Linked DNA regions of Homo sapiens: region 2 is linked to region 1. Evidence: fine-mapped expression QTL. Tissue or cell type: whole blood. Region 1 holds a variant in brackets; the other region holds the start of a gene. All regions are shown on one strand. Distances are between the middles of the regions. Region 1 overlaps MTRF1 (mitochondrial translation release factor 1). Region 2 holds the start of MTRF1 (mitochondrial translation release factor 1).

Region 1 (4,404 bases):
GCCTCCTCCTGAGGTTACCTCATCTGGCTGAGGAAGGACAATAACCGACATCGTTCCTGTGTGAATGCGCTGCATCCTTGAGGACAGGCCCACCTCGGGGATGCGCTGAACTCGGTGAATCCCACCCTCATACTTCAAATGCTTATAGACACCGTCACCGGAAATTCGGGCGGCTGCATGATGTAGTCCACCTAGGGGAACAACAATCCAGAAATAGTAATGAATTATCCTTTGAAACAGATCAGGATCCTAAATGTCCTTAATCTAAGGCCTGAATGTTGAGTACAGAGCCTAAGATGAGAACATAAAGCATGGGAGAACGAGGGCCTCTGAAGAAGAAGAAGAAAAGAGGACATAAAGTATGCACAAAACTACAGTTTTCCAATGTAAATGTATTAAAATACAAAAGGAAACATACCAAAATGTAATTAATTATAGGAGCTAGTGATGCAACAATAGGAAACATACCAAAATATTATTTCGTTATGTCTGGGGAATAGAATAATACTTTTTTTATTTCCAAATTTTCTATAATGAACAAGTTTTATTTTTATAATAAGGGAAAACTACTATTAGAACAAAAAAATAATACTGGGATGTTTTCTGTATTGAACTACCCTGTGTAGTCTTAGGCTAATAGGGTATCATATATAAAAGAATGCTCAATAGGAGAATAATTTCATACTGTTGAATAACTCTACAGATCCTCCCAAATTTTCAAGAATTTATTGAAAGTCAGCTCTTGCTTATCTATGGAGTGGGAAGAGTATCACAAAGAATCTTAACACCTAGGCTAGCTTGTTCTTTTTTTGTTGTTGTTGAGACAGAGTCTTGCACTGTCACTGGGGCTGGTGTGCAGTGGTGCAATCTCGGCTCGCTACAACCTCTGCCTCCTGGGTTCAAGTGATTCTCCTGCCTCGTTCTCTTGAGTGGCTAGGATTACAGGCACCCACCACCACGTCCGGCTAATTTTTTGTATTTTTAGTAGAGGCGGGGTTTCACTATGTTGGCCAGGATGGCCTCGAACTCCTGACCTCATGATCTGCCTGCGTTGGGGTCCCAAAGTGCTGGGATTACAAGCGTGAGCCACCATGCCCGGCCACTTGTTCTTATCTAATGTTTTTTTAAAAATCTTTTTTATGATACAATAATATATGAAAGACAGAAAAACACACAAATCAAATATGTGGTTTAGAGTCCACCACTCAGGTCAAGAAAAAGAACGGTGCTAGTCACTTCATAAGCCCTCCCAAATGCCATTTCCAGACATAATCCTCTCTCTTCCCTATGAGTAATCATTATCCTGACTTTTATTCCTTTCTTTATCATAACTTCATTACCTAAACGTGTAGCCCTAGGCGCTACAGTTTAGTCCTGCCCATTTAAAAATGTTTGATGTATCTTTTTAGTCTATTAGTCCACATGCTCATCATCCATTGCTTTCATTTCCTACAAATGATCTGGTGAAGAACTTGGGCTGCTGACCTGTAGAATTTCCAACAGTCTGTTTTTGCAGACTGCATATTCTTGGTGCAAGTCACCCTGTTCTGCTGCCCTCTGTATCGGCAGCAATTAGGCAGCTGGATGCAGACACTGGATCAGACACCAGCTCGAGCCCTTTGGCAAGACGACAGGAGGTATACGGTGTCTGGATGTCTCTCTTTTTACAGTCTTGACAGGCTTTGACACTGAATGCATCACTGGGGTTACAAAATGGTGATAAGTCTAATTCTATCATTCCTTTCTCACTTATTAGTTAAAATACACTAATAAAGAGACACTTCCCCTTGTCTACCATTTGATTACATGGTGATACAATTACATAGGAAAAGCAAGATAAATGTTTGATTCTGTCCCTTTTATCAGTTCTACCAAGATACCAAC[G/A]TTTTTTTTTTGTAATATACTGAACTGGTTCATTTTAATCCTCTGAAGATGACCAATTAAAAGTTTAAATTATCATTATGAACTCAAGGATTGAAACACATCTAGCACGTTTAAATCAAGCACAATTATTATTAAAGCTCAACTAGTCCCATCGTTGGCCCATAGAGCCTCTTCAAATTGACTTCTGAATTCTTCTGACATGCCCCATTTGTATGGGACATGCCCCATTTGTATGGCATAACAAGATATTCCAGGATTATCTTGAACATTTTTTACCCTAGACCTGGAATCAGCCATGTCTCCAAAAAGCCCTGGTTCAAGAGAAAAATAGTATTTGAAAATCACAATTTGGGGGCTAGGGTTGTCCACTACTACTGGATTTGGTTATAATTTCTAAGCCTTTTCAGTGGCCAGAAATAGGAAATACCTCATGAGTTCATATGATGTTGAGACCCAATTTTCCATGGGTCTCCTGTGTTCCTGCACATCTTACAAATGAAGCATTGCTGGCTATTTCGCTCTAAAATATCTTTTAAAGGCGGTTTGTGTAGTGAACAGCCTTGGAAATAATGTGTCCCTCCAGAGCAAAGGACAAGTTTCCACAGCCTTGGAAGACAGAGATAGTGTCTCTTTCTAGAGCAATGTGCAGCATGCTTACTGCGCATTAAAAAAAATGGCTGGGCGCAGTGGTTCATGCCTGTAATCCTGGCACTGTGCAAAGCTGAGGGGGGCAGACAGCGGGAGCCCAGGAGTTCAAGACCATCCTGGGCAACACAGTCAAACTCCATCTCTACAAAAAATACAAAAATTATGGTCAGGCGCTGTGGCTCACACCTGTAGTCCCAGCACTTTGGGAGGCCGAGGCGGGCAGATCACAAGGTCAGGAGTTCGAGACCAGCCTGACCAATATGATGAAACCATGTCTCTACTAAAAATACAATAATTAGCTGGGCGTGGTGGCGCGCACCTGTCATCCCAGCTACTTAGGATGCTGAGGCAGAAGAATCGCTTGAACCTGAGAGGCGGAGGTCGCAGTGAGCCAAGATCGTGCCACTGCACTCCAGCCTGGATGACAGAGCAAGACTCCATCTCAAAATAAATAAATAAAATTAAAAAAAATAAAAATAAAAAAATTAGCCAGGTGTGGTGGCACGTGTCTGTAGTCCCAGCTACTTGGGAGGCTGACATGAGAAGATGGCTTGAGCCCAGTTGAGGCTGCAGCGAGCTGTGATGGTGCCATTGCCCTCCAGCCTGGGAGACAGAGTGAGACCCTGTCTCAAAAAAAAAAAAAAAAAAAAAGACTCAATTTCCTTAAGTTCAGTGCTCTTCTCCTATAATGCAACCTACTGTGTGGGCAGGTATCATCTGGTCTTCTTAGTTGTTGCCCTGTGGGACTCTGGGCTCAGGGAACTGGCACAAAAATGCTAATACTCTGGCTACTGCTATAACCCTGAGTAATAAACTGTCCTTCACTGCTGACCCATGAAACAGCAGCAGGCTAACTTGTTAGCTTGCAAGTAGGGTAAAATCTCAGACCTTTCAGAGTTTTTACAACTGACACTTCCAATTTAAATTCAACTTCAACCTCTTTTCTACCACACTTTTATTGTATTTCTTCCCATACCAAGAATCTTGGTTCTCAAAGAGAGGGCATTAGAATTAAAATATCCCAAAATTACTTATCTGTTTTTATATTACACTACACACCTAACAGTCTCAGAATACTAATACTAGTTCTACCAATACAATTACTAAAAACATTAAAACTTTTTTGCATATGCTCTTGCCATTTGCCTCCCATTTTTCAAATGATTGTACTATATCTATACTGTCAGATCATACAGTCCTTATGTAACAAATTTATTCCCCTTAGCCCTCAATTAGTCCCAGTTCTTCAGGTAACTGCATATTTAATGTTCACCCCTACTCCTTATTTTGCTATCTCTCATTTCAGTTGTCTGAAGCTTGTTTTCTAGTAGATTCCTCAGAAAGGGATCATGGGAAGAGTATTTCTTGAATTCTTGCATAATGATAACAAATTGTTCCCTTCACATTTATAAGTCAGTTTTGCTTATTATAAAATCCTTAACTCAACTTTCTTTCTTTCAGTGAACTCTCTCTCTGGCACAAAGTGTTGTTACTGAAAAGTCTGAAGGAAATCTAATCCTTGCCTTATAAGTCTCAAGGTCTTTGTTTCTACGTGCCTAATGGGTCTTTTCCCTTTTTTGTAAGTCCAAACATTTTATTAGCCTATGTCTTAGTGTTGGTCGTTCTAGCTGGGTATTTTCAGATGTGCACATGGTTTCAAATCTTTTATTTCTATTTCAGAAGAGTTCTCTGGAAATATAGATGTTAGTATTTGTCACAGGCAGCCTCAAGGGTGGCCCCCCAGGATCCCTGCCTGCTGGTATTCATACCCTTACAGTTCCCTCCCAGCTGGTCTGTATGATCAATAGCATATGGTATGACAGAGGTGATACTATGTCACCTTCCGAGGTTAGATTATAAAGAACCATGGCC
Region 2 (4,404 bases), 21 kb after region 1:
TTTCATCTACTGCCTCAGCCAGCTCCACAGTCTTAAAATTCAACTGCCGGCTGGCAGCAGTGGCTCACGCCAGTAATCCCAGCACTTTGGGAGGCTGAGGCAGGCGGATCACCTGAGGGCAGGAGTTCGAGACCAGCCCAGCCAACATAGTGAAACACTGTCTCTACTAAAAATACAAAAATTATCCGGGCGTGGTGGCAGGCGCCTGTAATCCCAGCTACTCAGGAGTCTGAGGCAGGAGAATTGCCTGAACCCAGGAGGCAGAGGTTGCAGTGAGCCGAGATCATGCCATTGCACTCCAGCAAGGGGGACAATACCAAGACTTCGTCTCAAAAAAAAAAAAAATTCAGCTGCCTACAGAAAGAACATAATTCTTCAAATGTATGAATAACATATTAAAATAAATAAAAACAGCACTGCTTCCTACCTGTTCAACATATATAATTAACTGAAGCATATGAGTAGGAGTACAACTAACAAATATATCAATTGAATGAGTTAAGTCAGTTATTTTCTAGAAAGTATCTAGAATCTAGAATTGAGTGTGTAAACAAGCTCTTGAAAGCTATGAAAACATACAAACTTAAGGCGGTTCATAAAGTCATTTTCTAAAGTTTGAAGAAAATATTATTATCTTGTATAATTCTTTAACTTTAAGGATCTAGATATCCAAGGAAGTCAAGTAACTTAATCACGACTATTCAGTCGGCTGGATGGAGACAGAGCTGGTATTAGAATGTAAGTTGCCTGTTCAGGACTCAGTAATTTTCACTCTCAATTGTGCAATCACTTTTCAAAAATGCTTCCCGTTTAGCTGAGATCCTAAAGGAAGAAAAGTTCAAGTATTAATAGACCAAGAAAGTAGGGCTGGTGAAAAGCTCTACAGTTATATTAAATGGTGACAATTATATTAAGCAAGAAAGGCAAGGAACAAAATAGAATCTCAATTACATTTAAAAAATATTCTACAATATAAGGTATACATGTAAAAAAAAAAAAGCACATAGAGTATTTTTTAAAAAGAAAGTTAAATAAGAAACATACCAAAATGTGCCGAGCACAGTGGCTCACGCCTGTAATCCTACCACTTTGGGAGGCCGAGGCGGGCAGATCATCTGAGGTCAGGAGTTCGAGACCAGCCTGGCCAACATGGGAAAACCCCATCTCTACTAAAAATACCAAAAAAATTAGCTGAGCGTGATGGCACACACCTGTAGTCCTAGCTGCTCGGGAAGCTGAGGCAGGATAATCGCTTGAACCTGGGAGGCGAAGGTTGCAGTGAACTGAGATCGCACCACTGCAACCAGCGTGGGCGACAAAGCAACACGCTGTCTCAAAAAAAAAAAAAAAAAAAGAAACATACCAAAATGTTAATAAAATGATCTCTAGTTGTGAGATTATGAATACCTTTTGCTTGCTATTTTTTCTACTTTTCAGTGTTTTCCAAGTTTCTTGCACATGTAGCATGGAATACTTTCCTAATCATAAAAAAAGATTAGTTTAAAAAATTACAGGTTAGGTGAAATTGGCTGTGTACAATAATTTTCTGTTCTCCTCCCCTCCAACAGAGATAATCAAGAGCTAACAAAAGTACACAATGGTCTTACTGAGTAAGAAAGGGAGAATATAAAGTGTTCTAAGAAAACTCTAAGGTTCAAAGTTGAAATAAGGGTCAAGCCACGCACAGTAGCATGCACCTATTGTCCCAGCTACCCAGGAGACTGAGGCAGGAGGATCACTTGAGCCAAGGAGTTCAAGGCCAGCCTGGGCAACACAGTGAGACTCAACTCAAAAAAAGAAGGATCAACATTTATCAAAATCAAACTTTACTGTCTCCAGTGATCCTACTATGCTAGGAGGTGCATTGATATATTAGCTCATTTGTTCACTATAAGTCTGTTAACTTAGCATTATCACCTAGGAAATAAAATAGTCAGAATGGTCTTTAAAATATTCAGTTTCCAGAGTTCTACTGATAGATTTTAGGATACTGCATCACATTATTAAAAGAACTGTTGAAGAAAGCACCAATGGCCAGCTGTCACAAACGTTACACTCCACCACCCCCGTATTTCAAGCACGTTAGAGAAAGTGTATCCATTTGCTAACAGACAGAATAAAAGGATGACAAATATATGTTTGTACGAATACTTATTGCTAAAATTTCCATTTTAGGAACAGTAGTAGAATGCATAATTTTCAAGGTCATGAATCTCAACATTAAGGAAAACAAAACAAAACAAGATGTTTACTCTCCAAGGTTAACTACACCTGAGAACAGCACGACTTCTCCATTACCCATCACAGTAACAGTATTACTCTGATGCTTTGGGGAAAGTTCTGAGTGTAGGCAGGTCAGAAGCGACAGCCCGCGGGGCAGCAGCACGGGCAAACCATGCTGTGTAACTCAGTATATGGAGTGATTCCATAAAGAGGCAATACAGGAGGCGGCGGGGAAGATCAGGAAAGAACTGTGAGTACCTAAGAAAAAGAAGAATACACGTTAGCTCTCTTTACTGAGGTCGGAACCTTCCGAGACCCGCCACATTTCAGCCCGACAAACCCGAGATCACGTTCACTTCCTGGTTCACTTCTTCCGGGTTAACGCACGCTCCCGGCCCCTCCTCCGCCACTACCGCTCTCCGGAGGAGTTGTCCTCGAGCATGCCTAACAATGGACTAAAATGACAAAAATGAGCTAAATGAGAAAAATGACAAAACGAGAATGAAATTGTCATCAGACAACCGCCCCCGCGCCGTCCTTATCCAGAGCGTGAGCCCAGAGCGGGGATGGAGATGGTGGGAGGGAGGGAGGGAGGGAGGGGCCAAGGTGGGACTAAACTACAACTCCCAGAGCGCCCACCAAAGAATCCTGGGAGTTGTAGTTTACCTTGCGGCAGCCTCCAACCCCCTCCACTCACTATCCAGCCAAATGTGGAGTTTTTGGTTTTCACCGTTAACTGCAAACCTAGAAGAGAGATTCTTTACGATTCTGATTAAGAGATCAAGATTTAGAACACATTGCATGTGAAATTACAATAATTTCCTTATGTATTAGAAGCCCGTAAAGCACTGTTTTCCAATATTTAAAAAAAATAAAGACTCCTTTTACATCATCCACAAATGTAGAAGATTCTGCGTGTAATTTCTATACTTTCAGCTTCCATTGCTTCAGAAAATACCTAATGACTAAAGGATAATACAAATAAATTTATATTTTAAAAGTAGTAACAGCCCCAAAAGTTAGGAGACCGTGTATTTCCACATGTTAGTGATTTTATAATGTTCTTTGCACATGGGAATGTAGGGGCTCAACCTAGATTCATAGCTTATGAACCACTGATTAAGTGAAGAATGAAAACTCCAGTTAATAAACAATTGCAGGAAAATGCAAGCATATTGTCCTACTTTGACTAATCCAGTGGGATCCAGCCCTTGGCTATCGCAATTTACAGTCTTTCTATCTCCATGCCTCAATTTTTCTTCCTGAAAGAAAAGGCAAAAAATGTACCATATTACTGACTTTACAGAGTATTTTCTTAGATTATAATCACATACATAGATAGGAGAATTAGCTATATATGCAAAATAATATCTAACGTTTATAGCCAACTTCAAGGTACCTACTTCTATGTACTATGTACTAAATACTGTTCTAAATGGTTTTACCCTATTAATTCATTTAATTTTTACAACCTTAAAATACTTATTTTGCAGAGGAGAAAATTAAGGCACACAGAGCTAAAGTAACTACTCCAAGGTAAAAAACAGTAAGTGATAGAGCCAAGACTCAATTAAGGCAATGGCTTTAATGATCTGTGGCTCCTAAGCTCTGATATAGGGCCACCCTGCTCCAAAAAAGAAAAAACCTTCAATCATGTATTCAATAAATAGTGAACACCAGTTATGTGCTATTCACTATTCTAGTCATGAGGATTTAGCAATGAACAGAAAAGACAAAAACCTTTGCCCACATGGAGCTTATGTTCCAGTAGGGGAAAAGTTTCAAAGGGTCTACATAAAGTCATTCTCCTAAGTTATCCAAAAAGTTCTTTAATTATTTATTCTGATTTGTGCTTTCAGCTATATAACTTGAGTATTATATATAAAGCTTTATTCTCCTTAAAAAATTAGTCTTAGTCGGGCGTGGTGGTTCACGCCTGTAATCCTAGCACTTTGGGAGGCCGAGCCAGGTGGATCACCTGAGGTCAGGAGTTCGAAACCAGCCTGACCAACATGGAGAAACCCCATCTCTACTAAAAATACAAAATTAGCTGGGCGTGGTGGCTCATGCTTGTAATCCTAGCTACTCGGAGGCTGAGGCAGGAGAATCGCTTGAACCCAGGAGACAGAGGTGGCAGTGAGCCAAGATTGCACCATTGCACTCCAGCCTGGGCAACAAGAG

The links. PIP is the estimated chance that this variant, and not a neighbour inherited with it, causes the effect.
Region 2: MTRF1 starts here. The variant in region 1 is fine-mapped to the expression of MTRF1 in whole blood (TOPMed, PIP above 0.99).

What each region holds. Positions count from the first base shown.
Region 1 is chr13:41,240,243-41,244,646 of GRCh38, forward strand. It overlaps MTRF1 (mitochondrial translation release factor 1), which reads right to left. Exons shown (of 10, transcript NM_004294.4): 6 at 19-191. Among named protein-coding and RNA genes, the nearest start is that of MTRF1, 21 kb to the right of the region's middle. The variant G/A (reference allele first, on the strand shown) is at 1,885.
Region 2 is chr13:41,261,004-41,265,407 of GRCh38, forward strand. It overlaps MTRF1 (mitochondrial translation release factor 1), which reads right to left and starts at 2,573. Exons shown (of 10, transcript NM_004294.4): 1 at 2,482-2,573. RefSeq lists an enhancer at 1,991-2,491 and a silencer at 2,779-2,868.